2 linked regions of the Homo sapiens genome follow. Each later gene encodes a partner of the first gene's protein in a complex. Each region holds a gene or a part of one and is shown on either strand. Other genes may lie near its edges. The genes, in order: RAD1 and HUS1. A codon is read from its position in the direction of its gene.

Evidence for each region.
Region 2: the proteins of RAD1 (region 1) and HUS1 are in contact, whole or in part, in a crystal structure (PDB 8GNN), measured with the Homo sapiens proteins. Residues at the interface, in NP_002844.1 of Homo sapiens: Asn85 (codon at 12,928), Val88 (codon at 12,937), Asp91 (codon at 12,946), Cys92 (codon at 12,949), Ser94 (codon at 12,955), Ile95 (codon at 12,958), Phe96 (codon at 12,961), Gly97 (codon at 12,964), Ser98 (codon at 12,967), Gly127, Val128, Val129, Thr130, Val131, Cys132, Lys133, Ile134, Asn135, Gln137; in NP_004498.1 of Homo sapiens: Thr165, Ser168, Val169, Lys172, Met173, Asn175, Ile176, Glu197, Leu198, Val199, Cys200, Val201, Thr202, Thr203, His204, Phe205, Lys206.

The regions. Positions count from the first base shown.
Region 1 is NC_000005.10:34,910,746-34,926,451, reverse strand, and holds the start of RAD1 (cell cycle checkpoint protein RAD1), read left to right. Parts: upstream 1-10,947; 5' UTR 10,948-11,036; intron 11,037-11,490; 5' UTR 11,491-11,559; coding exon 11,560-11,757; intron 11,758-12,873; coding exon 12,874-12,982; intron 12,983-14,639; coding exon 14,640-14,898; intron 14,899-15,706. Other genes in the region: BRIX1 (ribosome biogenesis protein BRX1 homolog), read right to left, coding at 957-1,226, 1,477-1,605, 3,218-3,319, 3,401-3,451, 3,684-3,757, 3,864-3,913, 4,165-4,235, 6,569-6,612 and 2 more. UniProt on the Homo sapiens protein: Component of the 9-1-1 cell-cycle checkpoint response complex that plays a major role in DNA repair. The 9-1-1 complex is recruited to DNA lesion upon damage by the RAD17-replication factor C (RFC) clamp loader complex.
Region 2 is NC_000007.14:47,971,568-47,986,854, reverse strand, and holds the start of HUS1 (checkpoint protein HUS1), read left to right. Parts: upstream 1-7,239; 5' UTR 7,240-7,335; coding exon 7,336-7,387; exon of another isoform or gene 7,388-7,445; intron 7,446-8,038; coding exon 8,039-8,166; intron 8,167-8,261; coding exon 8,262-8,438; intron 8,439-10,017; coding exon 10,018-10,125; intron 10,126-11,167; coding exon 11,168-11,242; intron 11,243-15,287. UniProt on the Homo sapiens protein: Component of the 9-1-1 cell-cycle checkpoint response complex that plays a major role in DNA repair. The 9-1-1 complex is recruited to DNA lesion upon damage by the RAD17-replication factor C (RFC) clamp loader complex.

The sequences.
Region 1 (15,706 bases):
AAAAATTCAAATGTTCTGGTATCCCCTTTAACAACTGTCCTATTTTTCTCTCCTTTTACTATTAGTTTTCTAAATAAGTAATCTATACACACTGCTTCTAAAATAAGTATGTCATTTGGCCGGGCATGGTGGCTCATGCCTGTAATCCAAGCACTTTGGGAGGCCGAGGTGGGCAGATCACCTGAGGTCAGGAGTTCGAGACCAGCCTGACCAACATGGAGAAACCCCAACTCTACTAAAAATACAAATTAGTTGGGCGTGGTGGCACATGCGTGTAATCCCAGCTACTCGGGAGGCTGAGGCAGGAGAATCACTTGAACCAGGGAGGTGGAGGTTGCGGTGAACCGAGATCGCGCCATTGCACTCCAGCCTGGGCAACAAGAGCGAAACTCCGTCTCACAAATAAAATATAATAAAATAAAAAATTTACAAAGTGCTTTCAACACAGCCATTAATGCATTTGATTCTCAAAACCTCAACATTTTAATATACTCTTTTTTGAAGTGACAGATCAGGGGTTGGTTCTTCCATGGCTTCATTAACTGATGACTGAGTAAACTTCAGTGAGATGCCTTCCTTTCTACCAGTCTACTCCTACTTTACCATCCACAACCGATGCTCTTGAAGTGTTGAATGCTTTTACAAATAATATGACCTAATAAATGTCTGAATTTCAGCTTTGCTAAACCAAAAATTCCAACCCAAGAGAACAGGCTACATTAAGTGTGCTACATTTTTAGCAACACAAACTTCAAAAAGAAATCAGAAATTAACTGATGAATTCTGGTGATATTTTATTTAGAAAAAGATAATCACTGATTTTAAGATCTTAATTTTTCTTTCTTGTAAATGCTACACTAATTAGACGTAAGATAGTATTAGATAATAAAAGTATTTACACATTGAATACAAAATAAATATAAAGTAACTGAAAAACAAATCAGGTTTCCATTGACTTATTTTGTTTTCCCACTGTCCATCCTCTGTTTCATTTTTCTTTGCCTTTTGTAAATCCGTTTCTTTCTTGCTTTCAAATCAACTTTTGGCTCTGGTTTTACCCACTGTATTTCTATTGGTTTCTCCTCAGCTGGTGTTACAAAAACATCTGCAGTGGGATCATGTGGAAGAAGAGTCTTCGGCTCTTTCTTTCTCAGTTTTTGCACATCTTTCACTTGCTGTTTCTCTCTGTATTTTGCAGCTGTGATGGATCTTATGACACGCCGATGCTAAAAAAAAAAAAAAAAGATTAGATGCTTTTGAAATAAAAATAAACATTTTATATAAGGCAAAGACTTTCAGTTATGAACCATATATCCTTTCAGCCAGTGTCATGAAAAAAGGGAGTAATTTCCAAGTTTCTATGCAGCAAAAACCAAATTCAGTTTCACAGGTAATAAAACAGCAATTACTTCACAGAATCATTTTGGCCAAAGGGTTCTGGTACATTGAAGACTACTGAATGACACAACCGCTTACCATGTTTGGTGACTGGTAGTGAGGATTTTCATATAAAGTTGGTCCTCCAAAACTTCCCTGGAAAATCTTTATGAGATTTAAGACAAAACGAGGTCCTATTTCTACAAGAGCAGCATCTTCTTCTATGATCTTTAATAAAAAGGAAACATTTCATTTTGGTTTGGTTACGTTATTCCCAAAAGGTATACTGGCTATAACCTCATTATAAATGTGCCTGAAATAATTGATAATCCATAAAATCAAGGTGGGGGTGAAACTTGGTAAATGGCAAATCATCAATATTTTCTGAAATCTATTAGTACTTATAGGAAGTTGTCATGGAAAAATGTTTTTTCAGTGAGTTCTTTTAAAATTGAGTAATTAGATTTTGGTTCACATCTTGCTTGTCACAATGCATATATCCTTGAAAAACTGGTTAAACAGGATTTTAAAACAGTAACCACTATTAACAAAATGTATTAAAGCACATTATGGGGGAACTCTTGAAACTTAAATCAATCCCTAAATTGTTTTTATAAATCTAATTCAAGTTAGATTAAAAGGATATGTAGTCAAATTTATTTAATAGCTACTGATTATGGAATTAAAAGGCAACTTCCGAACAACAAATATTTATGTTATCTATTAGTTCAGGCATGTCTACCCTCAGAGGTTAGGATGATGTGTTCAACTCACATGCCAGGTATCCAATATAAAATATGCAGAAAAGAGCTCAGTTTATGTCATATACTGTCTAAAATTTTGTTCTTGCTGTTCTCTTCCACCTCTTCATCTTTCTGCACTTATCGTGCCAAACTCCTGCTTCAAGATTTCTAGAGTCACCTCCTCTTTTCTCCTGAATGAGTCACTGTGTGACTCATCATCTAACCGCTGCCATTGAATGCCTTCTAGAGCAATTACATTTTGCTAGGTCTTAACCTTTGAGGTGCTTTGAGAGAGAAACTTCTAAGCTTTGAGAGAGAAACTTCTATTTTACTGTATCCTTTACAGCACTTTCTACAAATTAGGAACCCAAGTATCTCATGGATCTTCAAGTTATTCCCTTTCTATAAAGTTAAATATATAATGGCTTATTAGGAAATCCATACTCTGTATCAACTAACAGTCATGAATAGAAGTAGGTAGAGCTCACTTAAGATATAAGACAGTACATAGTTACTTGCAGCAATCTCTTTAGGGAAAAGGAAGCTATTTAAAACAAAAGAATTATTTGCATTTTTTGTGTATGCAAACCCTGTATATCCTTATCTAAAAGTTTAACTAAAAATTGACCAGGCACAGTGGCTCACAACTGCAATCCCACCTACTCAAGATGCTGAGGAGGAATGATTTGAGGCCAGGAGGTTCAAGGCCAACCTAGGCAACACTGCGACACTCTATCTCTAAAAAAAAAAATTAGGCCGGGTGTAGTGGCTCACGCCTGGAATCCCAGCACTTTGGGAGGCCAAGGCGGGCAGATGGCCTGAGGTCAGGAGTTTGAGACCAGCCTGGCCAACATGGCGAAACCCCGTCTCTACTAAAACTACAAAAATTAGCCAGGCGTGATGATGGGTGCTTGTAATCCCAGCTACTCAGGAGACTGAGGGAGCAGAAGCTTGAACCCGGGAGGTGGAGGTTGCAGTGAGCCAAGATTGTGCCACTGCAGTCCAGCCTGGGCAACAAGAGCGAGACTCTGTCTCAAAACATAAATAAATAAACTCAATTAAAAAAAAGGTATAATTAAAAATCAAGTAAAGCTTACCTGAAAGTTCCGAAACCATATCCTATTATCCAAAATGGTGAAAGTAAACACGTGGTCCACAAATGGTTGGCTTTTGGGATGATACCGTGGTGTACTAAAGATCTAGTTAAAAAAGTGTATGTTAGTTCCTTATTCCAAGATATATCATGTATATTTTGGATAGCTAATTTTAAAGATATTTACCTGAATTAAGAGTTCTTTTAACAAAGCATAATGTGGTAATTCATCAAAAGCCTATAAAAATAAGGTAAGCATATTATTTAACAGTAGACTGCCTTGTTTAAAACTGTTTGCTCATTTGTTTCTATAACTTGGCTATAACCTCATTATAAATGTACCTGAAAGAATTGATAATCCATAAAACCAAGGTGGGGGTGAAACTAAATTGAATAACACAACTATATCTACTAAAAACAACCATGCCAGATAAGAAAATTAGACCTCATACACTGAATGAGAAACTTACAGGGTCAAAAGACAAAAGGGGCCGAGAACCTTTCAAACAGTTTCCAGTCATCTTCAGTTCAGCGAGGGTATGAACTAGAAAAATTACAACAAAAACAAAAATAGTTGTAACTTTTGCACAACTATTTCAAAAGATTACTTTTAATTTCCTCATCTAAAAAAATTTATTGAGTCAACTTACTATTTTGAACAAGGAATTTAGCAGATGGTCCGTGAGGTGAATTTGAAAGCCTGAAAGATATGGAGTAAGCTTTTTCAACTAATTAGCAAATGTAGTCAATGCTTACCACCTATTCACCATAAATAATATGCTTATAATATTTATACATTTAATTTTCTTTAAAGGTATCAAGTTTCGTGAAATCAAAAGTTTGCTTCATTCTCAACCCTTAACATGAAACACTAGGAGTCTATAACATAAAAGGTACAAAGAACAAATCCACTTAAATGAGTTTAACCAAAATCTTAATACATTCTCTTACCACATATAGAGATCCTGTTTTTTCTTAGCTTCAAAATAGATGCATTTATTACAGTTCTTCATTTCACAAACCTAAAGGAAGCAAAGTATAGGAAAATGAAGTAGATAATATAAATGAGAACTAAAGTAATTATATGTGATTAATATCATCCAGATTATCTCAAAAATACCTAACCAGGCTAATAGGCTACAAAGGCCTAAACATGTATTTATTCACAGAAGGAACCTTTAAAGTTCCTCTTAGGTATTCTACCCAAGGTAAACTAGATGCTCTGCCCATATCTTGGGTGAAATTATCTATCATATTTTTGGGCCTAGCATCTAAAATGGTCTCACTTCTGATTACTGGAAACCTCCCTCCTTTTTTTTTTTTTTTTTTTTGCGATGCAGTTTCGCTCTTGTTGCCCAGGCTGGAGTGCAATGGCACGATCTCGGCTCGCCGCAACCTCCACCTCCCAGGTTCAAATGATTCTCCTGCTTCAGCCTCCGGAGTAGCCGGGATATTACAGGCCTGTGCCATCACACCCCGCTAATTTTGTATTTTTAGTAGAGATGGGGTTTCTCCATGTTGGTCTGGCTGGTCTTGAACTCCCAACCTCAGGTGATCTGCCTGCCTCAGCCTCCCAAAGTGGTGGGATTACAGGTGTGAGCCACCTCACCTGGCCAGGAACCTCTTCTGCCCATAGTCCCATTGACAAACTACAAAGACTAAAAATAGATGCCCTACGGATAAAGCATACCACAACTAATCTTCTTATGTTAATCCTTCATAATCAATCTTCTTAGCCAATCTTATGAAAATGCAGTACTTATAGAACTAAAAACATCCTTTTTAATGATTATTTTGATTTTTAACTTTTTAGCTTTTTGATTCTAAGATCACAAAACTTAAGTTGTTCTTCATTTATACTATCATTTCTGGTGATTTGGTTCTATAAAATCACTAAGGGATTGGGTGAAAAGCCTAAGTATATCAAACCTATTTCAAATTAAACTTCAATGTCTTGAAGGCTTACAAAAGTCACACTTGAGAAGACACAAAAACATTACAGGAGTGAAGGCTTGTATTACTGTAGTATTCATAAACTCTAATTAATATAGTACTCTTAAACTCCACATTATTTAAGACTTTAAACCTAACAACTTATGGCTGGATGAGGTGGCTCATGCCTATAACCCCAGCACTTTGGGAGGCCGAGGTAGGTGAATTGTCTGAGCAACCTGGCAAAGCTCCATCTCTACTAAAAATACAAAAAATTAGCTGGGCATACTGGCGTGTGCCTGTCGTCCCAGCTACTCGGGAGGCTGAGGCAGGAGAATTGCTTAAACCCAGGAAGCAGAGGCTGCAGTGAGCTGAGATCATACCACTTCACTCCAGCCTGGGTAACAGAGAGAGACTTTTGTCTCCAAAACCAGTTAAACAAATAAACAAACCCTAACAACTTAAAAAAAAAAAACAAAACTTTTGTTTCTTACTGGTCTTAGAATAAACACAAAAATAGGAAGTTTGTGCCACTTCTGGGCTTTTGTAGTTGCCATTTTCTCTAGCTAGATGGTCTTTTACCATATTTCTCCTTCACTACGTCTCTGCTCAAATATTAAACACCATCCCTTTGAACAGGTTTTTCCGGTGTAGCCTCAGCTGTCCAAAACCTATAACCTGCTTTATTTCTCCTGTCTTTACTTGAAATTATAAACCTTGTTTATGGCCTGTCTCCATTAGAATGTAAGTTCCATAATGACAGGGACATTGCTCTGTTGAACAGTTTCTACAGCACATAGAATAATGTGGTATTACAGCAGAGGTTCAAAAATTTGTGCTCTAAAGAAGGCTAATAGTGAAAAAATGATCCTAATTCTTCTAAGTTTTGAAAATTTTGCTTTAAAATGTAAATTTATGTTCTGTGCTTCCAGAGGTTAAAAAAAATACCTAAGTGTAGTATCTTAAACAATACTTTGAAAATGTAACCTATTCAGTTTGTAATACCTTAATAGCCAGTTCCACACAAATCACTTTTAATACTGGCAAAACACTTTTTACCATGTGGGTTTTATATATATATATGTTTAATGGACTTATTTTACTTTATATATGTTGACTGATAATTTTTTGAGTACCTACTATGGATTTAGCATAATACTAGACACTACAGGGTTAAAAAATGGGACATAATCCTTCTCCTGAGGAAATTTCAATATGCTTGTTCAGACAAAACAAACAGAAATGAATGAAGCACTAAACTGTGAGAGATAAAAATTTGGAAGACCAGTTATTGAAGAGTTAATAAAATGTGTCTGAATAGTTTTTACAAAATAATTTTTAAAGTCACTGAATGACTTAGTTTTGAAATAAGCCACTGTTAACATTTTAAAAATATTTTGTTGCAATTACTTTCCAAAATTACCTCGTTAATCACAAATAGCTTATCCTTACGATCCATTTTAGTATCTAGAAAAAGAAAAAAAAGAAAAAGCAAGTAAATTAAAGGTGATTTCAAAGTTATTTCAATCAAACCACATATGCTATCCAGAAAATAAAGTGTTTTTACACTCTTCAGTTTAAAGGAGATTTTATTACTAATTTTCAAAACAAGAGCTGGAAACAATCGCTCAAAAATCTTGACTCTTTGTAAATGTAAAGAAAATAAGTAAAATATAGTCTGTAAGAATTAGAAATTATAGTGTAAGCAGTGTTTCTCAATATTTAGGTATTCTAGGAATCCTTTTCAAAAATGGGAAAATTCTCACAAACCAAAGACTGTGTTAAAGGAAACCAGTTTCAATGAAAATATCTTTCACTTTTTAATCTTAGGTGTCAAAGAAAACTGACTTTATGCCCGTGTAACAAACCTGCACATATACTCCTTGAATCTAAAATAAGTTAAAATTTTAAAAATAAAAAACAAAAAACAAAAAAACCCCAAAGCACCTCTCAACATAAGCACAACAACAGCCATATGATGGCGCTGCCACTCCACTGTTCCAAACTTTTTTTTTTTTTTTTTTTTTTTTTTGAGACAGGGTCTTGCTCCTTGCCCAGGCTGAAATGTAGTGGCGCAATCACGGCTCATGACAGCCTTGAACTCCTGGGCTCAAGCCATCCTCCTGCTTGAGACTCCTGAGTAGCTGGGACTGCAGGCAAGTGACCCCCTCACTTGGCTAATTTACTTTACTTTTTTCATTTTTTTTTTTTTTTATTTTGTAGAGACAGGGTTTCACCATGTTGCCCAGGATGGTCTGGAACTCCTGGACTCAAGTGTTCCACCCACCTCGGCCTCCCAAAGTGCTGGGATTACAGGCATGAGCTACCATGCCCGGCCATACTGTTCTTGCCTGTAAAATAACCCACTGCTTAAAAATAAATAAATAACCTGGCATTTAGAAATAGGCTCTGACTCCAACTTAAAAAGTGCTTTGAATTCTATCCCAGGTCCATTTTTCAATAAAAACAGTTAAAAAAAAAAAAAAAAAGGCCCAAAAAGCAACATGTGGCAGTCCTTAGCACTTAGGACAAACCATCCCACCTATCTCAGGACCTTCAGAAGCATTACAGTGAAGGCATTCCTGGACCTTCAAGAAATGTTTCAATAATATTAGGACACCTGTTTTAAAAAGTAAAGAATCTACCTAATGAAATCTAAAGAATTTCTTACGAAATGTTAACTGGAAAAATTGTGGCACTTGAAAGGATAAAAGGCATTGTGTTTTTTTCGTGAGAACACTGAACAAATGAAGAATATATAAAATAAGTGAAAACATAAAAATAGGTAAGTTTATAGATAGAAATTTCTAAAGTATATGATATAAAGGCACCTGCTTTAGAATGAGGCATCAACATTCTCAAGTCCTGCATTAAATGTCTTGTTCTAAAATTTATTCCTCTGGAAGAAAAGATGAGAATCCGTTCCTTATTTTTCCACTTTCCCTAAAGAAAAAGAAAATGTTAAAAGATTTTAAAATCTTATACTGAACTGATCTTGTTTTGTGACAGGGTCTCACACTGTTGCCCAGGCTGAAGTGCTCACGGCTCACTGCAGTTTCAAGTTCCTGGGCTCAAGTAAGTGATCCTCCCACCCCAGCATCTACAGTAGCTGGAGACTACAGGCATGTGCCACCATGTCCAGCTAGTTTTTTTTTTTTTTTTTTTTGTAGAGATGGGAGTCTCCCTATGTTGCCCAGGCTGGTCTCCAACACCTGGGCTCAAGTGGCTTGGCCTCCCAAAGCGCTGGGATTATAGGTAAGAACCACCGCACCTGGCCCTGTTTGTTTTTTATGAGCTTCCAAGTAGCTCATAACCAAGTCAAACCATCCTGACTCCTTTAATTTCATCTCTCACCAACATTCACTGACCACATCTGCCACCCAGAAATGCCCTCCTTGGTTTCTTTGTTTTTCAACTTCAATCTCTCCAATTCCTCCTTCCAACCCTAAAAGTTCTTTCTTAGCCCTCTTATTTCTGTGCTCTCCATGACAGATGTCTCATAATAATTTCCCACAACTCTTAATCCTTTCTTATTCACACTGCACTTACTTAGAGTCTTATATTAACTGCAAAACTCCTAAATGGCTAACCTTCCCAGACATGAGCACCTCCAATAGATATGGTTGACTAGCTTTTTCAACAGTTTACTTTTTTTGTTTGTTTGTTTGAGATGGAGTCTCACTCTGTCACCCAGGCTGGAGTGCAGTGGCGCGATCTCGGCTCACTGCAACCTCCACCTCCCGGGTTCAAGCGATTCTCCTGCCTCAGACTCCCGAGTAGCTGGGATTACAGGTGCCCGCCACTGCACCTGGCTGATTTTTTTTTTTTTGTAGTGTTAGTAGAGACGGGGTTTCACCATCTTGGCCAGGCTGGTCTTGAACTCCTGACCTAGTGATCCACCCGCCTCGGCCTCCCAAAGTGCTGGGATTACAGGCGTGAGCCACCACGCTGGACCATTTTTAAAGTAATACTTCCATCACATCCTTACTTCCCAGAGTTTTCTAAACAAAGTTCAAATGACATAGCTTTGACACTGAATTTTAAAATAGATTTTCACGTCTACATCATTATTGCCCCAAATGAAGCCTAATGCAATCCAATCTGGCTCTATTTTTTACATTTTTCAGCATTTCCCTACTTCAAAGTCTTTCATCGGTTTTTTTTTCTCCCTTGGAGTGTTCCCTCTCATTTTTTGAATGTCAAAATTCTACACTTCCTCTGATATGCAGCTTACGGGCTAAATCCTTCATGATTCTTTATCTTATTATACTAGGGTAAAAATAATCTATATCTCCTGCACTTCCATAGAATGTATCGAAGTATGGCTCAGATTATAGATACTACCTAGCTCAAGGGAAGAGTGAGAACACTAACATTTACTGGAAGTGTACAAGTCCAGCTTATTTTTCATAAAAAGTAAATATTCCCTCCCCCTGCCCCCCAATCTGCAGGTCAGAAAAGAGCACAGAATGTTGCTGTTAATAACGGGGCTAGAATTTACACTTATCTTTCATTCCACAGAGCTCACTTCTTTCTTAGAGCTTGCCATCACACCACACGGGGTCATTTACTTATCACCTACTCCGCGCTAGAGTACTATGCTAAGTGCGGAGGACGCAAAAATTAATGTCAAAGATAATCCTTGTTCACAGTATTCTGTCTAGCTTAAGAAGAGTTCTTAGTTGAATGAAAGCTAATTCTAACAACTTGTGTGCACTTCTTTTGAATAAAAACCATCAACTTATTTGAATTCTTAAGTTTCCTCCTAAACTCCAACATTTCAGGAGGAAGAGGTCACATTCTAGTCATCTTTGCAATCTCAAACCCAAAGGAAGCCTAACTTGGTACAGTGCATGGCACATTCAATGTCTGTTGAATACAAGTAAAGCTCATACTACCTAGTCTATTTTTCAGTATCTCTTGAGTTAATGACCTGGTTAACAAGTCAGAGTCACAGTCCCAAGGGCAACAACTTTTTAAAGGCTCCCCTAACGTACTTCAGGATCCCTGACTGAGAGTGGCTGACTATGGCAGTATATGGGCATACTAATCACTGGAGAAATAATAGCGAGAAATAACCAAGGAAAAGCACTACTCTCCAAAAACATTAAAAAAAAAAAACAACTGAACAACTAGTAAGAAAGAACGCTGGATCTGAGCACCCTGTAAGTCGCTTCCCCGTGGGCCGGGTAAAGGTTTTAAAACCCGCCGCCTCCAGGAAGACGGCCACGTGCACAAGGATTAGCTGCAAACTCCGTGCCCAGTCTGGCCGGGAGAATTGCTAAAACCGACCTACCGTTAACACCCGGGCTACTCTGAAATTAAGCAAGGCTGTAGTCAAGTAAGTAACCCAAGAAAAGGCGCACAGAGCCGCCGCCGCAGGTGTAGCCCGGGGACATCCCCTCCTACCTTGCAAACGGGGCCTGGGATCCGGTCCCTCTCTTCTTCCTCCACCTCCTCTGCTGTGGCGTGCCGCTTAGCTGGCGGCTCCGCATCTATTTCGTTTCTTTTTGGCTTCTTCGCCTGAACTGCAAAGCCTCCACGCCGTTTCCTCTTGGTTGCCGCCATCTTGCCTCGCCGCCCGCGCTCTTGGCCTCCTTTCCGGCGCTGCCGCTCGCTCCTATTTCCGATCTCTATGGTTCGGCGGCTCTAAGCGCTCAGCTCCGCGGTCGTCCTCCAGGTCTGTGCCGCCTCCTTCCGGTCTCGGTGGCGCGGCACGCGCGGCTCTCTAGGCCTCCTTCAGCTCTGTGGTGACGGTGGCCGAGGTGGAGGGCCGGTCTGAAGAGTGGCGGGACTGGCTTCACTTCCTCCGCGGTTCCTCGGAGCCGCCTCGCTCCTCTTCAGGGACTTTGCTGAGAAGGGCTCTCGGGCGTCCAGACCCCACCGCAAAGGTAGGGTTTCCGCACTCGGGGACCCCGAGACTAGTAAGCGATGCTGTCCCGCGGGCGGGCTGGTGAATGGGGTTGTCTGGGACTCTTGGAGGATTATCTGGACACTCCGGGCCCGCCCCGCCATCGCCTGTTTTGTTGGAGGCGGGGCTGGTGGCGCGGGCTGCACAAAACCGACTCCCCGCGGATTTGTAGCTCCTGTTTGGCCGGGAGATACCGTGTCAGTTGCGTGTCTTCATTCTTCACAACTTTTCACGTTATTGTCCTCTTACGGAGACGAGGAAACCGTAGCTTAGATAATTTTCCTCCAGAATTACAAAGATAGTTAAGTGACATAGGTGGGGTTCGGCCTGGTCAGCCGTGTTCAGCCTCCCAGCCCCTTTCCACCTCTCAGCGCAGGTGGAGCTCGCCGGACCTCGCCAGCACTGATGGGAGTTTTACTGTCTAATCCCTTCAGGTGTTTGGCGATCCGCCGAGAAGTTGTTGGCCCCAGGAGCATCCCTCGGGGCCGAATGCGCAGTGGACGATGCCCCTTCTGACCCAACAGATCCAAGACGAGGATGATCAGTACAGCCTTGTGGCCAGCCTTGACAACGTTAGGAATCTCTCCACTATCTTGAAAGCTATTCATTTCCGAGAACATGCCACGTGTTTCGCAACTAAAAATGGTATCAAAGTAACAGTGGAAAATGCAAAGTGTGTGCAAGCAAATGCTTTTATTCAGGTATGGAAGTAGGCGCCTTTAAGCCTGTGCCATAGATACTCTAAATGTAATTTAATGAAATCGGAAGGTTTCAGTAGACAAAATAACTTAATAGTCATAATAACTTGTCAATAGTCATAATAAATAACTTAATAAATAAATAATAGTCTTAAGTTAGAGAACAAAACGTCATTACTTGAATTTTTTTTCTCTCCCGGTAACAAATTCTTTTCCCATCTTGTTTTACAGAGATAATGGTTAGTAATGACTAAAGTTTATTAAACTAGGCTATTGGCTAGGCTACAGTCTTCTTATTGTTTAACTTATTTAATCTTAACAATAGTCCTGTAAGGTAGGTTCTGTTATTATTCCCGTTTTATATATGTGGAAACGAGGCACAATTTTAAGTGATTTGCCAACAGTCCCACAGCTGGTAAGTGGCTGAATTGGGATAAGAACGCTGAATATTTGTTTCCAGAATATATGCTCTTTTTTCCACTGCGATATGCTATTACTAAAGAGTATTTTTTTCCTTTACTGGTTGTAATAGAATTTTTGTTCTTCCAAAGTAATATTTGTGTGGTTCAGATAGGATTGCAAGTTCAACTAAGCGTTTTTTAACACGTAAGTGCACAGCATGATCTCAGGGATAGAGAGGTAAATAAGACACGGTTCTTGTCCTCATGCAGGGGCATGGTATGGTGGCTCACACCTGTATTTCCAGCTGCTCAGGAGACCGAGGCTGAAGCACGAAGATCGCTTGAGCTCAGGCATTAAAGACCAGCCTGGGTAATCATAGTGAGACCCCCGTATCAATAAAAAATCATAATAAAAGTTGAAACTAATGTTGCTCATGCATTATCAAGTCATTCGTCTATTTTCCAAGTGACCTTAGCAGTAGTGATAGGCACAAAAACGAGACAAGGGAGAGTCACAGAGGGATAGTTTTAGATCCAGGAATGGAGATAAGGATGCTTCAAAGGATGTCTCTAAGATGTTTTGATTGCTAATCAGAAATTATTCTCATGGGATTAGCACAGTATTGTATTTTTTAAACGTATAAAGTGAAATCTAGGACCTTATATTATTAGTTTTTATTCTTTTATGTAACAATTTTCATTTTTACTCTTTTCATAGGCTGGAATATTTCAGGAGTTTAAAGTTCAGGAAGAGTCTGTTACTTTTCGAATTAATTTAACTGTCCTTTTAGACTGTTTATCTATTTTTGGATCAAGTCCTATGCCAGGTAAACTATGATCAGTATAAAGACATAAAAGTGTTATACATAGTGGTCAGAAAAATACAGGAAGTTATTTGGAACATAAACATTGGTTCAGAAAGCTAATGCCAATTCATTTTTCAGTGGCCACAGTCATGGGTTCTAACATTTCACAATGTTAATTGCAAGTGTGTTTATAATTCTTTTCATATTTGTAAAAGTATTTGCATTTTTTTTTTAATTTACAAGGCTTTGAGGGATTGTAAATTCGAACTGGCCAAAAGAATACTTTGGACATGTCTTAAATATTTTTAGCATTGTGAAATGTTTTAATTGCTTCTTTTTCCTAACTTGTCCAGAATTACTCCGCTAGTTAGTGGCAGAGAAAAACAAAAGCCAGTTCTGACTCCTAGTTTACTATGTTCAAAATTTGTTTCTTTTAAGCCATATTTTATAAGTTATGTCTATTTTGCCAAATGATTTTGTGGTGTTTTTGAGACAGAGTTTCTCTCTTGTTGCCCAAGCTGCAGTACAATGGCACAGTCTCAGCTCACTGCAACCTCTGCCTCCCGGGTTCAAGTGATTCTTCTGCCTCAGCCTCCCGAGTAGCTGGGATTACAGGCACGTGCCACCACGCCCGGCTAATTTTTTGTATTTTTAGTAGAGATGGGGTTTCACCATATTAGCCAGGCTGGTCTCAAACTCCTGACCTCAGGTGATCTGCCCGCCTCAGTCTCTCTAAGTTCTGGGATTACAGGCATAAGCCACCGCAACCGGTTGCCGAATGATTTTCTTTAAAATATATATTTTTTTATTTGTTAAGGGAATTTTTAAGAATGGTGAAATTGAATTGCTGTGGGTATAAAACTAAGGAATCCCCAGAAGAATGATTTTATTTCATAGGAAAGCAACCTGGAGATTAGCTAGGAAAAATTCAATATAGTTCTCCAGAAAAATGTATTTTACGTTTCCACAGACAATTCCACTATTATTAATTATACATTTTCTAATACAGTGTTCTCCAGCTAGTTTTTCACAGAAGCATCTGTCATCTTCCATTCCTCACTGTGGCTCTCAATCCAGTAAGGAGAAGGAGTTTGAATATCCTGTCATATTCCTCCTTCCCTCTAGTGGTTTGCAGAGTTAAAATTTACACCACCATTAACAACCCTCTTTTTCTCTCAATTTGATTTTTAAATTCGAGGAAATATAAAGAATATCTCCCAGTTGGAAAAGTTGGAAGGATCCTTGTCATAGTGAGTACACTGACGTTACAGTACAGATGACAGCAATCCACTGTTACACACATTGAACCTTCAAGGAATAGCATACCCTGTTCTGCAGCAATTTAGTTACTTGCTGTGTTGATCCATATAGATTCTCTACCCTGAAATTGTACATATATAAAATCAACAAGCTATTTCTGAGGTGTGTATGACAACCTGAAAATGATTCCAAAGAATTATGTTACATTTTGTTCTGGTTCCCAATTTTCTTGTAGTTTTGGAATTCTCTACACACAACTGTCATCAGGGAAGATGTCATCCCTTTTTATGAGGAGATACATATATGTGAGAAATTGGGCGGAATAAATTATTCTTGAGAAATTTTATGTATCATTTCGAGGAGAAGCTGAACCCAGAACTATAAAGCTAAGGCCAAGTATGACTTCTTTCCATTGCAGGGACTTTAACTGCACTTCGAATGTGTTACCAAGGTTATGGTTACCCTTTGATGCTGTTCCTGGAAGAAGGAGGAGTGGTGACAGTCTGCAAAATCAATACACAGGAACCTGAGGAGACCCTGGACTTTGATTTCTGCAGCACCAATGTTATTAATAAAATTATTCTGCAGTCAGAGGGGCTCCGTGAAGCATTTTCTGAATTGGATATGACGAGTGAAGTCCTACAAATTACCATGTCTCCTGACAAGCCTTATTTCAGGTACTTGAGAGCAGTGCAGTTATAGTTAATGTGGTCTGTACTCCATCTTCCCACTTAGACATTTGCTTAGGATGCAAAATTTTTATTATCCACATTTTTAGAGTTTTCACAACTTTAGACAGCTTGTACTCTTACCTCATAATTTTATGGATCAAGAAACTTAAGACCCAGGAAGATTAACTCACTATTTCATATTTAGGTGGTGGTGGCATCTAGATGAGAAGCCCAGTCCTCTAATTTATAAACTGGTGGTGTTTTCATTGTACTACTCCTTACTTTCATAGATCAGGTTACATCATGAGGAAAATTGGGTTTAAGTGTTTGGAAAGGGTGTTTGTATTATGGTATCTTTTTCAAGTTAGTTCAGGATGCAGAAGAAGATGTTTTCTACACGTGGCTCATTCATTCACTAAGTATCTGTTGATCACCTACCGTGTGCTTATTCATCTTATTAAGCATTGTGGGAAGAACAGCTTAAAACCAAGGTGAAGCCAAGAAAATGTGAAACAGCAAACCATTAAGTACCAAGATAGCACACACAGATACCTGGGAAATGCTGTATAAGGATTTAGGGAGGATTGCTCAAGGCTGGCTTCCCAAGGGAGGGCAGTTTTCAGCAGGAGTACAATGTCAAAAAAGCTGTTCTTGATAGTTTAACACAAGTCTCTTTTCAGGATTAGACTCAGAGATTCTAGCAATTTAGAGAGAGGATCTAAATATTCTCTTTTTGAAATATTTCAGAATATTAAAGCCCCTAAATACATATGGAATAAAAGGAATAAGGTATTCTTTTTGTAACTACTTTAGA
Region 2 (15,287 bases), on another chromosome or scaffold:
TTCCTTGAAATGCAATAGAGTCTATTTTAAAAGAATTAGAAACAAGGAAAAACTGTTGTAAGTTCGTGGATGCAAAATTCCCATATATAAATCAATATCATTCATAAAAACAACAGGGTATAACTTACAAAATCCATTATTATCTTTAGATAATAAACATCAAATAAAAGAAGAAAGTAAAATATCTATGTGAAAAAAATCCCAAACAGCAGTGAATGACTAAAAGAAGACTTAAGGCCAGGCACAGTGGCTCACAACTGTAATCTTAGCACTTTGGGAGGCCAAGGGTTGGGGGATCACTTGAGCCCAGGAGTTTGAGACCAGTCTGGGCAACACAGCAAGACCCCATCCCTACAAAAAATTTAAAAATTAGCCAGACGTCTTGGCACATGCCTGTAGTTGCAGCTACTCAGGAGACAGGTGGGAGGATCACTTGAGCCCGGGAGGTTGAAGCTTCAAGTGAGCTGTGTTCGAGCCACTACGCTCCAGCCTGGGCGACCCTGTCTGGAGAAAAAAAAAAAAAGAAGACTTCAGTAAAATAAATGGAAAAATAGATGTACCATATACTGTATCCTTCAATGGGAAAACTCAACTGTCAAGATGTCAGTTCTAAGTTAATTTATAAATGTAACTTGATCTCAGTTAAAAAGCAGAAAAATATGGACTTTATGGGACAGTTATGAGATATTAAAGAATTATCGTTAAAAAAAATAATTTGGGCTGGGCACGGTGGCTCACACCTATAATCTCAGCACTTTGGGAGGCCAAGGTAGAAGGACTGCTTGACTCCAGGAGTTCAAGATGAGCCTGGGTGACATAGTGAGACCCTGTCTCTATTAAAAATAAAAAAATTAGCTGGGCATGGCAGTGCACACCTGCAGTTCCAGCTACTTGGAAGGCTGAGGTGGGAGGATCACTTGAGCCCAAGAATTTGAGGCTGCAGTGAGCCATGATCACTGTGCTCCTGCCTGGGCGGCAGAGCAAGACCCTGTCTGAAAAAAATAAATTATAGGTGTCTGTATGATAATGGTACTAAAATGATGATTTTAAAATAAATCTTTTTATTTACATATTTAAATATTTAAAGTTGAAATGATATATGTGGGATCTTTTCCATAATAACATAAGAGGAAGAAATGGATAAGAAAATTCATGAAAAAGATTGGCCATGAAATGATCATTGAAGTTGAATGCTGCCAGTCCATGGAGCTTCATTATATTATTCTGTCTAGATTTATATATGTTCGATATTTTCAATTAAAAAGTTTTTTAAAAATTAAGACATGTATATATTTTTAAAAACCCAAAGGGGGGTATGTTTTAAATAAAATTGATTCTAAAGTTCATATGGAAATATAAACTTAGCAAAAGGACAGCCAGAAAAATCTCTGAAAAAAAATCAACAAAAAGAAATAGCTCTATGACATAGGTATAAAACAATAGTTAAAACTGTATGATACTGGCAAACAGATAGACCAATGGAACAGACTGCCGAGACCAGCTTGGTCGGGGAGACCCTAACCCAGCGGCGCTAGAGGAATTAAAGACACACACACAGAAATATAGAGGTGTGAAGTGGGAAATCACGGGTCTCACAGCCTTCAGAGCTGAGAGCCCCGAACAGAGATTTATCCACATATTTATTAACAGCAAGCCAGTCATTAGCATTGTTTCTATAGATCTTAAGTTAACTAAAAGTATTCCTTATGGGGAACAAAGGGATGGGCTGAATTAAAGGAATAGGTTGGGCTAGTTAATGGCAGCAGGAGCATGTCCTTAAGGCACAGATAGCTCATGCTATTGTTTGTGGCTTAAGAATGCCTTTAAGCAGTTTTCCGCCCTGGGTGGGCCAGGTGTTCCTTGCCCTCATTCCGGTAAGCCCACCACCTTCCAGCGTGGGCGTTATGGCCATCATGAACATGTCACAGTGCTGCAGAGGTTTTGTTTATGGCCAGTTTTGGGGCCACTTTATGGCCAGATTTTGGGGGGCCTGTTCCCAACAACAGACAAGTCCAAAAATATATTTACATGTATGTGGAAGTTGGGTGTATGATAATGGTAGCATCTCAAAAGAGTATGGGGGAAAAAAACAAATGGCTTGGGACAATTATCCAGTCATTAAGAAAATAAAATTCCATCCATATTTCTCACTTTACAATATGACAAACTCCCAGTATGGTAAAATATATACAAGTAGGTAATAAAACCATAAAAATATTAACAAGGAAACTTGGGATAATTCCTGTATGGTATTGAATAGAGGAAGGTCTTCCTAAATATGACTCAAAATTTAGAAGCCACAAAAGAAAAAAAATTCCACTATATAAAAATCAAGAACCTCTGCATGGCCAACAAAACTTAAAATGCAAAAAATATTCACAACTGACATTATAAGGACCAATCTTTCCAATATATACACAGTCCCAAGAAAGCAATTATAATATCAATAACCCAATAGAAAAATGGCCAGTAAACAGATCATCTAGAGACGCACATGAAAGATATTCAAGCTTATTTACTTAAGAAAAATGGCAAAAATTATACTGTACCATGTTTCACTGATGAAATTAGAAAGATCCAAAAGTTTGATAATGTTTTATTCCAAGGCTTTGGGGAAACAGGATCTCTCACACGTTGCTGGAAGAAATGCAAATAGGTATAACATTTATGGAGGGAACTTGGCCTATCTATAAAAATCGAGATGAATATATCCTTTGACTAAAAAACTTACCATGTGCAAAATGCCGTATATAAAATGTTATTCATCAGTAATATTTCCCAGGAGGAAATAAGGGGGTGCAGAAGGGTAGGGATGAACCTCTCCTTCCTTTGCCACTTTAGCTTTAGCTGGTAAATAAACATGCTCTGTAACCTCTTCTGTTACTTCACTATACTCTCCTTCCTTTTCCACTATGAAGCGTTCCTACCTCTCTGCCTGCCTTTGAGTCTCTGCTGAAATGCAAGTGATAATGGCTGACTCTGAATAAATAGGCTTTGCCTGTTCCATTTGGTTGGTCTTCATTTATTTCCACACTATCAATTGTTTTCCTGAAGGTCAAGTGTAAATAGAGCTGGTCCAGTCAGCAGGAGCATGTGGGTCACTGGACACTCAGCAATCCAGTGATGCAGATTCTCATCAAGAGTGTGAGGTAGGGCATGCCATGGCCAACATTGCCAATTCTATCTGTCCCCATCTTTAAAATGGGAATAATAGGCCGAGCATTGTGGCTCACACCTGTAATCCCAGCACTTTGGGAGGCTGAAGCAGGCAGCTCACCTGATGTCATGAGTTTGAGACCAGCCTGGCCAACACAGTGAAACCCCATCTCTACTAAAAATACAAAAAATGGTCTGGGTGTAGTGGCAGGTGCCTGTAATCCCAGCTACTCGGTAGACTGAGGCAAAAGAATCACTTGAACCCAGGACTCAGAGGTTGCAGTGAGTCGAGATTGCACCATTGCACTCCAGCTTGGGCAACAAGAGCAAGACTCCATCTAAAATAAAATAAAATAAAATAAAATGGGAATAATCATACTTATTTTACGTGTGTTTATATTATCTAAGTGATGATATCAGTGCAGAGTGCTATAAAATGAGAGCTATCTATCTCACCCTACTGATCAATAATATTTAAATAGTGCTTTAAAGGCATCCAATAAATGTTGATCACCCTCCTCTTGAGTAGGGGCTGGTCCCCTTCCTTAATCCCCATCACTCACCACCATGCCTGACACTTCTCATGTGCTCCACAAATCTTCATTTAGAAAAGTATCTATGGAATTTATTGAAGAATTTTTTTGACACCTAAAAGAGGAGAAGAGTCTTTGAAGAGCTGCTTAAGCAAAAACCCATCTCTTAGAACAAGTACAGTTGTCAAAAGACATTCACTCATGCCACCTCTAGGGTATGCTTTCCTTCATTTTACAGTTTTCTCATGTTAAAAAAAGAAGACAAATACTGCCTTTCAAATTTGATGCGTAACATGTGAGCTAGTCACGTTGTTTCCCTTGGGTAATTTTTCCAACATTAACTGCTAACAACAGGGCTGCAAATTGCTGTCTCTTCCCCCAGGGACTAGAGAAGATGAGTAAGTACCTGAAAGAGACTGGCCAAATACTTACCTAGACAGAGTTTACCATCTGCAGCTGTAGAGAGGTTATTTCCCTTACTTCCAACTATATGCATCCTGAATGACATTTTATTTGCACCACTGTTTATTTCAGTTTCTAAGACAAGATTAAGGCATTTACCTCCCCACTAAACAAACTTAATGAACAGCGTGAACACTGTTTCCCAAATCATTGTGTGACTGAATTACTAATCCCTGACATTTGGCAGTTCTTAAGTCAGAAGGCAATTTACTGTAGCTAGATGAGAACATGAATATACATTGCATTAGAAAACTCAGTGGTACATGGGGCTTCTAGAAATCTCTAGAGATCACATTCCTTGCCTCAAAATCATTTGGAAAGTAGAGAAGTAGTGTCAATATACTTAATTGTCAATTCTGAAGTTAATGAATTAATTTGCTAAACCTGTTTAAGAAAATTGCAAGAGCACATAAAAGATTCCTTTCTTCTTCCAAGAAAAGATAATTGCAGCTTTATTTTCTATTTCTTGAGTCAAATTCCTATATTATTTGGGCTTTTGTCCATGCAGAATGTATCATATCACATCTTCTTAGGAAGTTTAAAAAATTGCTTTATCAGTTTTTATGACATAAAATTAAGCAATTTACACTAAAGATCAAGATGTTACAAAACATTGTTTACAAAGTTTATTTAGATACATTCTTTAATTATATTCATTTATCTACTAGCAGCCACTTTATTTAATGTGATGCTCAACTCTTCAAAACTCATTCATGAGGAAATTAAAAAACAGGCTTTTTCCTGCAGATCATATGGGGCAAATAAAAAATGTTGGCATGGCCGGGCTCAGTGGCTCACGCTTGTAATCCCAGCACTTTGGGAGGCCGAGGCGGGCGGATCACGAGGTCAGGAGATCGAGACCATCCTGGCTAACACGGTGAAACCCCGTCTCTACTAAAAATACAAAAAATTAGCCGGGCGTGGTGGCGGGCGCCTGTAGTCCCAGCTACTCGGGAGGCTGAGGTAGGAGAATGGCGTGAACCCGGGAGGCGGAACTTGCAGTGAGCCGAGATTGCGCCACTGCACTCCAGCCTGGGCGACAGAGCGAGATTCCGTCTCCAAAAAAAAAAAGAGTTATGCCAACATTTTTTTTTTTTTTTGAGACGGAGTCTCGCTCTGTCGCCCAGGCTGGAGTGCAGTGGCAGACCTCTGTTCACTGAAATCTCCGCCTCCTGGGTTCAAGTGATTCTCCTGCCTCAGATTCCTGAGTAGTTGGGATTACAGGCACAAGCTATCACGCCGGGCTAATTTTTGTATTTTTAGTAGAGACGGGGTTTCATCATGTTGGCCAGGCTGATCTCAGACTCCTGACCTCAGATGATCCACCCGCCTCGGCCTCCCAGAATGCTGGGATTACAGGAGAGAGCCATCCTGCCCTGCCTGTTGGCATAACTTTGAAAGTGATCTATTAAGTTTGGTTTGGCAAACACTCGCATATGACAATGAAGATTAGAATTTTGCTTCATGTTATAGTCTTAAAATAGGCAAAAACTGCAATTTTTGTATTTTGCACCTTTTTATTATTATTACACTTTAAGTTCTAGGGTACATGTGCACAACGTGCAGATTTGTTACATAGGTATGCATGTGCCATGTTGGTGTGCTGCACCCATCAACTCATCATTTACATTAGGTATTTCTCCTAACGCTATCCCTCCCCCAGGCCTCCACCCCCCAACAGGCCCCAGTGTGTGATATTCCCCTCCCTGTGTCCATGTGTTCTCATTGTTCAACTCCCACTTATGAGTGAGAACATGCGGTGTTTGGTTTTCTGTCCTTGTGATATTTTGCTGAGAATGATGGTTTCCAGCTTCATCCATGTCCCTGCAAAGGACATGAACTCATCCTTTTTTATGGCTGCATAGTATTCCATGGTGTATATGTGCCACATTTTCCTTATCCAGTCTATTATTGATGGACATTTGGGATGGTTCCAAGTCTTTGCTATTGTGAATAGTGCCACAATAAACATATGTGTGCATGTGTCTTTGAAAATTATCTGGGCCTGGCGCGGTGGCTCACGCCTATAATCCCAGCACTTTGGGAGGCCGAGGTGGGCAGATCACCTGAGGTCAGGAGTTCGAGACCAGCCTGGCCAACATGGCGAAACCCCGTCTCTACTAATAATACAAAAATTAGCCGGGCATGGTAGCTTGTGCCTGTAATCCCAACTACTTGGGAAGCTGAGGCAGGAGAATCCCTCGAACCCGGGAGGTGGAGGTTGCAGTGGGCCAAGATCACGCCATTGCACTCCAGCCAGGGCGACAGAGCCAGACTCCGTCTCAAAATCATCATCATCATCATCTGCATTATCATTATCTTGATTCTATGTGTCAAGTTAAAGACAAGGTTCTAGTCTATTTGCAAAGGACATTAAAAATAACAATTGTTAACACAGATAATCTTTAGTCTTTGAAAAACCAAATTAGATACAATTGTTGCTTCATTTCCCCCTTTAAAATTTTTCCTTTAAAAAAAATCCTAATGACATTATTTATGCTAATAAGAATTTTATCGGATGTAATAAAGTTCGTCTTGAGGCAAACTGCAGAATTATCACTTAACGTCAGTGTTCTTTAAGCTTCCCGACTTTACCAACTAGCCAGTAATATGTTCAATTTTTTTAGAAGTCATTTGAAACAATTTTCAGAACCTTAATCCACCAAGATGCTTCAATACCAAAGTACCAGTACCGTCATCTGAGGCTGGAGGGTTTAAAGCTGCTCTACCTTAGGTATATTTAAGATAATATTGTTTAACCTTTATAAACGATTAATTTTATTTGGATATTTTAAAATAACACTTGAAATAGGTGTCACAAAATTCTTTCAAAACGTGAATTCTCAGAACAACCTCCCCGAATCTGGGGCTTGAAGCCTCCGCCTCACTAAAAGTAGATCCCACCATTACCCGGCAGCGCGGAGGCATACCCGGAGACTGGGACCCCCACCTCCCCCGGGGCGTGACCTGTGATCCTTGACCCGTGACCCCACCTCCTCTAGGGCGTGACCCCCTAGCCCCACCTCCTCCGGGGCGTGGCCCGGAGATAACCCTGGTAAGAGTCGCGTAGCCCGAGCCGGGCGGAACCACTGTTCGCGCTGCCGTGTTTCCGGGCGGGGACACTCAGGGCGCGACGCTTTTCTGTTACCCACAGAGGCCCGCCGCGGCTGCGCCATCCGCGGCCATGAAGTTTCGGGCCAAGATCGTGGACGGGGCCTGTCTGAACCACTTCACACGTGAGCAGGGAGGCCGGAGAGGAGCGAGGGAGGAACGGAAGGAAGCAGTGAGCGCGCGGTGGGGACCGCGCAGGAGGATCAGAACGGGGATGGGCGCCGGAAGGGGCCGCGGGAGGATGGGGCCGGGATGGGGGTGCTGGTGTAGGCCGCGGGAGGGTGGGGCCGGGAGGGCGCGGGGCGGGTCGGAGGGCACTTGTGGGGATGAAGGCGGCTTTCAAGGGACGTTTCTGAAACTTGATTCCGATCACGTGGCTTTAAAAAAAAGCGGCCACTGCTCCCATAGACGGCTTTATCAGGCATTGACATACCTTCAAGGCCCCATTCGTCCCTCCACCCTGACAGTGCCTAACCTTGCATTTAACTGTGTATTGCAGTACCTAGTAGTCAATAAATCCATGTTGAATGAATGAATGACTGGTAGGTGCCTGTTTTCTTATTTGAACACTGATGATGTGTGCTGTACATCTCCCCTAGTTTGTTGGGAGAATTGCGTGACATCAGGGGTATTAAAGTACTTTCCAGTGTGATACCAACGTTAAGTGGTTATTTTTCCACCGAGAAGTTGATGAACAAGAAATTCTGCAAAATAAGTTGGTCTCTAGGATACATAATGTGCATTTTAGTAATTCCTTATTTTAACCCCTGCTTTAGGAATCAGTAACATGATAGCCAAGCTTGCCAAAACCTGCACCCTCCGCATCAGCCCTGATAAGCTTAACTTCATCCTTTGTGACAAGCTGGCTAATGGAGGAGTGAGCATGTGGTGTGAGCTGGAACAGGTGAGCAAAAGCTTCTGAGAGGCCTGCACACTCTGCAGATTGTCACTGGAAAGATCACATATACCCTCCCTCATCCCTCATTTTTTTTCCCTTAGGAGAACTTCTTCAACGAATTTCAAATGGAGGGTGTCTCTGCAGAAAACAATGAGATTTATTTAGAGCTAACATCGGAAAACTTATCTCGAGCCTTGAAGACTGCCCAGAATGCCAGGGCTTTGAAAATCAAACTGACTAATAAACACTTTCCCTGCCTCACGGTCTCCGTGGAGCTGGTGAGTAGGAGAGTCAGGGTTTCTAACACAGAAGTCTTGGCCTCGAAGGAATAGACATAGTTAGCCTAGCCTTTTTAACAATAAATACTGTTGAAAGCTGTTTGGTTTATTTAAATTTAAAGATCTGGTCCATAACTATATTTTGCATTAGAGTCAGTTCCTCCTCATTTTAAAATTGTGTTGTTATCATATGCATTCAGCTAGAATGCTGCTTTTTCCAAGCCGTGAAACTTCCAGCCTCTCTGTTTCTTGTAGTGGTATTGTCACCTTGTCTAGAAATCATGGTTTCTCTATCCATTTTCACCTTTGACATGTTTTCTCCCCACTCCCACCCTGCCTCATCTGCTATAATAACCTTTAAATGGCCCCTCGTTCTTCAGTACACGTATGTTTTATATGCTACTGCCAGATGAATTTAGTGCACAGCTGTCCTCCAAACACACAAATACACAAACTCATGCGCATACATACAATCCAGAGTTGCTCTTCCTACTCATAGAATGAGGTTCGTATTTCCTTTTTTTTGAGACGGAGTCTCTCTATCACCCAGGCTGGAGTGCAGTGGCGCGATCTCGGCTCACTGCAACCTCCATCTCCCGGGTTCAAGCGATTCTCATGCCTCAGCCTCCTGAGTAGCTGGAATTACAGGCACCCACCACCACACCCAGCTAATTTTTGTATTTTTTTAGTAGAGTCGGGGTATCACCATATTGGCCAGGCTGGTCTCGAACTCCTGACGTCAAGTGATCCACCTACCTCGGCCTCCCAAAGTGCTGCGATTGTAGGCATGAGCCACGGCGCCCAGCCCAGCTTTTCTTCATAACTCTCAACTCTTTGCAGTCAGGCAGTTCTCAGAGCTAATTAGGGCATTTCATGTCACAGTATAAGTTTGGTATGTTTTTTCTATTGCTTAAGGAAAAGCAAGATAGTAACGTATAATACTTTTTGTCCAAAAGTGCAAGATATTTTGGTCTGTGAGTCTCATAGGAGCCCCTAGAAATAAATATAGTTTGCCTTTTAACTGTTAGAAACTGCAGCACTCTGAGTGTCCTATGCCCAAAGAATGGCCTTCTCTTGGTTGCGTCAACATAGCAGGCTTGCTTCTTTCTGCCTCACGGCTTTACATGTGCTGTTTCCCCAGCCTGAAACCCTGTCCCCTTGTTCTTGTCTTCCCATGGCTGCTGCTTCTCCTGCTTTTGGTGGTATCTGAAATGTCACCTCCTCAGTCTAAGGAAACTCCCCCACACTCACCCTGGTCTCTGTGGAGTGCTTTCTCACGGCTATAATGAGCATTTCATACAGTTTCATTTGTTTGCATTTTTATTGATCTGTTTGTTCCACTGGAACACTAAGGACCTTTTTGTCTTATCACCACACTTCCCAGTTCCTGGAAGTACCCAGAGTCTGTTCCATAAATATTGGCACCATCAATATTGGTCGAATGGCTTTTGAGTGAATAAACTGACAGCATTCCACTTAGATTTGGTATTTCAACTTTTTTGTCCCGGGTCTTCGGGTTTGTTTTGTTGTTGCTTAATATTAACAACATAAAAATATTTTTAAATTCTTTTCTTGGCAGTTATCTATGTCAAGCAGTAGCCGCATTGTGACCCATGACATCCCCATAAAGGTGATTCCTAGGAAATTGTGGAAGGACTTACAAGAACCGGTGGTCCCAGATCCTGATGTAGGTGATGCCTGCAGTCCTGCTGTACACCCCACATTAAATGGCATGACTTGAATTCTCTAGTTTTAGTTGTAGTCTTGCAGTATATTTTATTTTTAAAGGATACTTAACGAAAACATTAGATTATTTGCCTTTTGTTATTTACATAAAGCATCTTAAAAATGTTGCATATGATAGAAATGTCATGCCATCCTATATGTAGAAAATGTCTCGCTCAGTAACATCACTTAAAACACAAATGATACTTTTGGAGGACAATTAGTATTTATTAGTATTCTTGGCCTTAGACACCAATTTGGGTTTCACAGGACTTGATCTTTTCCTCAGCCGGTCAGGAGCGATATCTGGATGTGCACGAAAGCCAAGAAGAGAAGAATTTCATGGCTTAGGGCTAACATGGGGTAACGGTCATGCCGATGGTTAACCCTAGAGCTCCTGAAAGTAAAGATGATGCCAAAGGGCCCATTTCCTCTTGCTCACAATTTGTTTAAGAAGAAAGTACAGAAATATGCTGGGTAAAATAATTACTTGACTTTTACTAGATGGCACCTACACTGATTTTGAAAAAGCCTGTGTTTTATAGAGCACTCTTGGTAACAGTCTCAGATGTGATGCAGTGACTGTCTGCCATGTTTTTGTACAGAGCATGGAAAAGGCCCTTGAATCATAGGTGTAAATGTCCCTTAGAGGAGGGCCTCCTGCTGATTGCCTGAGTTATATTCCCCCTGGACCAATATAGGGGCATCTCAGCTGAAGTACCCTATTCCTTCTTGAGCCAAAAGAATGCCCACAGGGACATGGTTGCTGAGGTAACCAGAGGCAGGCATTCCATTCTTTAATTTTGCTTGAGCATCCTTGAGTTAGTGAAATAGAATTGGTTTTCTTTTTATATTTTTAAAAGAACTTTATTCAGAAAATTGTAAAATAGTATCCCATAGTTTTTGAGCATGCATGTGTTCTAGAGTTAGTTATGGGGCCCTTGTCATTACTAGAGTATATTAATATTTTTAATACTTGTGCTTTTTTCTCATTGGTTTTGTAGGTTAGTATTTATTTACCAGTCTTGAAGACTATGAAGAGTGTTGTGGAAAAAATGAAAAACATCAGCAATCACCTTGTAAGTCACAACTTCTTTAGAAAAGAACTCTGAAGTATTTGGTGGGACGGCGTGGGTTCTCCAGCTCACCCTGCAGCAGTCCATGCAGGTGGGCACCTCCTAACCGAGTTCCCACTTATGAGGACCTGGCCTGGTGCTGAGAACCTGCAGATTGCTAGTTGGATTTAGAAACCTATTCCAATACTTTTCAACTCTAATTCTTTGAGGAAAGCTTTTATATTTGCCTTTAATCTGCCTGTTTTTCCTCTTATATTTTGTATGAAACATTGTATCTTTCTTTTTTTTTTTTTTTTTTGAGACAGAGTCTCACTCTGTCGCCCAGGCTGGAGTGCAATGGCGCCATCTCACCTCACTGTAAGCTCCGCCTCCCGGGTTCATGCCATTCTCCCACCTCAGCCTCCCGAGTAGCTGGGACTACAGGCGCCTGCCACCATGCCTGGCTAATTTTTTGTTTCGTATTTTTAGTACAGACGGGGTTTCACCGTGTTAGCCAGGATGGTCTCGATCTCCTGACCTCGTGGTCCGCCCGCCTAGGCCTCCCAAAGTACTGGGATTACAGGCGTGAGCCACCGCGCCCGGCTGGAACATTGTATCTTTTACCTGCTAACGTGCCCGTATTTTTCTGTGAGTCACTGATATGACTGACAGTGAGTTTGGAGTTTCCTGTCTGCGTGCCAAGTGTCTTTCAGTGAGCCAGGGACAAAGATATGCCACACCATAGCAGCCTTTATTCCAAGCACACCTCACACCAAGCTAGGGGGCACTTTTATATTTCTGTTTATTTTCTGTTTATTTTGTGGAAGTCTCCTATGGCCACATGGCTCGAAATGTTACAGTGTGTGACAGTGGTGGGAAATGTGTAGGTTATCCTCATTCATACCTGGGGTTATTGTGAATTCTTCCTTCACTCACTGCCCCTCCCTCCTCCCCCTGCTCCCTCCTATCCTGCTCCAAAAAACACCCTTGGTTATGTCCCTGAATCTTCTAAAAACCACTGTCCACCTGATGAAGCATAAACTTTTGATCTTGACAGTGTACCAGGCCACCTTTATAGCCACATCTCTGTTGTATTGCCACACCCTCCCTGCAGAACGAGGCTGGGTTCTGGTATTCCCCCACAATGCCTCTTCTTTTTTGTTCAGTTTCTTTGCCATTTGACACATGGCTTCTTCTCTCCATCTCCCTGGAAGGCACTTAGCCATTCTCATGCTTCATCACAGACCTTTCCCCACCACCCCTCTGGAAGCTCCTCCATGGAGCTGAGCTGTCCAGTGTACATGGTAAATCACCTGCTAAGATCTCTGAAGGTCTCGTGAACCACCAGCTTCTTGATAAAGGAAACCCCATCTTAATCATCTTTGTGTCCCAGCTGCCCAGTGTGGGATTGCCACTCAGTAGGCAGCAATAAGTGTTGCATGGATCTGGAACAAAATTTAGCTTCAAGAGGTCTTTGAAATCACAAAAGTATTTTGAAGCCTAGAAAATGTACATTTGACTGTTTTTTTCTAGAGTTCTGCACACTAAGAGCAATGCTGTCATTGGACCTGGGTAACTCAAAGCTTTTCCTTCATAACTTAATCTATAAAATCTGTTTTCCATGAAGCAGTGTGCACTGTGCTGACGTTGGTGTCACCTGTGACTGCAGTGATGCTGATCCAGTTGTCAGGCTGGCTTCATCTGGGGATACCCTGGGGACTTCCAGAGAAATTCAGAGAGGCCCAGGAGAGAAAAGACAGGGCTGTTAATTGAAGGATGGCATTTGTTTGTTCTTTCTGTTCAATGAAAATGAGTCAGCAAGGTAGAGAGGTAGAAGGGTAGCTTAGAATCATCAGAGGTGTTTTGTTTTCTCTTTTTTGGAGTTTAAAAAAACATAGAAATATTGTGGAGAGGCTACTACGATCTGGAATTACTAAATGGAAAGTTATCAAGTTACTGTAGCAAAGTACATAATGAGGTCTTCCTGGGTATCCAGAATTCTGTATCTGAATATTACAGGCAGTAGAATTAAGGAAAATGGGTAGACTTAACACACTAAAAATGCCCACCTTCCCATTAGAGATGCCCAGTTACTTCCTTTCATTAAATGCGAGGTGTGACTGATGGGGTGGGTTGTATGTGACTCATGCAGGAGCAGAAAAAGAAGCAAGAACTGGAGGGAATTGACATCATGTTCTAAGACATTGCTTCTAAGTTCTACCATGCGTGTGAATCCCCTGGAATCTGGTTAAAGTGCAGGTTCTGATTTGGGAGGTCTGAGCTGGAGCCTGAGGCTCTGTTTCTGACCAGCTCCTGGGAGATGTCGATGCTGCCTGTCTTCAGACCACATCATGTAGCAGTACTTTGTGATGTGTGCCTGTATTACTCCGTTTTCACGCTGCTAAAAAGATATTACCTGAGACCAGGTAATTTATAAACAAAAGAGGTTTAATTGACTCACAGTCCTGTATAGCTGAGGAGGCCTCAGGAAACTTACAGTCATGACAGAAGGCAAAGGGGAAGCAAGGCACGTCTTAACATGGCAGCTGGAGAGAGAAGAACACAGGAAAAACTGCCATTTTTAAAACCATCAGATCTCATGAGAACTCCCTCACTATCAAGAGAACAGCATGGGAAAAGCTGCCCCCATGATCCAGTCACCTACCACCAGGCCCCTTCTCAGCACTTGGGGATTACAATTCGAGATGAGATTTGGGTGGGGTTGCTGAGCCAAAACAAACCACATCATTGCCATACTATATTGTACTTCAAATGTTATCTGAGAAACGGCTCTGCAGGGTCACCTAATGATAGAAACCAGAGTCTATGTTTAGGAGTCATGATATGGAAGAGGGGAGTCATTGGAGCCACATACCTGGGTTCAGCTCCAGGCTGCGCTGTGCAGTGAGTACCCTAGTGCTGGATACTACCCCAAATGGGGATAACAGTGCAGCTATGACAGGGGCTTCGTCAGTTTTTAAAAATTTAGAGATAATTTTTACTAGGTGCCCAGTATAGTCAGCATTCTATAAACAATAGTTGACTATTTTAAGGAAATCATTGAAAGATCTTACCCTGATACTTAAGAAATCAAGTGTGTTGTTGTGTATAATATCCCAAATAACTGAATCTTAAAATAGACATGAGTGACCAGTGTTCAGAGAATTAGTTGTTTGTTAGTTTCTTCAGTAAGTATTGACTTAAGGCCACCATGTGCTAGGCACCAGGTGTTAATGGTTAGGAGGGAGTTGGAATCTAATGTTCTGTTACTGAGATTCTTAGGAATTTGAAGAAAACACAAGAGAACATTTAAGCCTGAAGTGCATCTAGGCCCATTGCAAGTTGCATTTTTAAATAAGTATTTATTTATTTATATCTAAAACCATTGCTTTTCAAAACAATGGGAATTTACAGATCTTGGGTGTGTGGTTGTTTGGAACAAATGAGCTAAGGTCATGTGTTAGCCTTAGCCCCACTAAGCAGTCTAGCATATTCACAAAGATTGTTTTATATATTTTATTTCAGTCAACTATTGTTCCAGATTGTAGGAAAACGGGTTAGGAAATATAACAATATATTTTTTTGGATTAATGAAAGAAAAGGGTTGAAAATGAGTATTTCTCATTCAAAGTAGATTATACAACAGGTAAGTTTGGGGCACTATTTTTCTATTAATGTGAAAAGCTCAGAAATAAGAGCTCACCCAAATTAGAAAAACTTTGTTTCTGGAATGAAAACTATTCAGAGTTCACCAATTTTAAGGAATAAGAACAAGGAACACTAAATTGTATTCAGTAAACATGAACACTGATACAGAGCCGTGCAGACAGAGTGCCTTCTCTGTTTTCTTTCTGTGACACTGTGAGGATGGAATGGCCCTAAATAAGACCAGTTGCTAGGTGGCACTTTTCTAGTACTAGATGGCAAAATGCTATCCAGCAGACTACACACTGGCTTTCCAGAGACCTCCTAGGCTTTAACATTGGGCAGATATCAACATCAAAAAGAGAAATAACAGGTACTGGTTCTTTTAGGAGGAAATTTCATTGTAGGTGCGGGAGTGGACCAG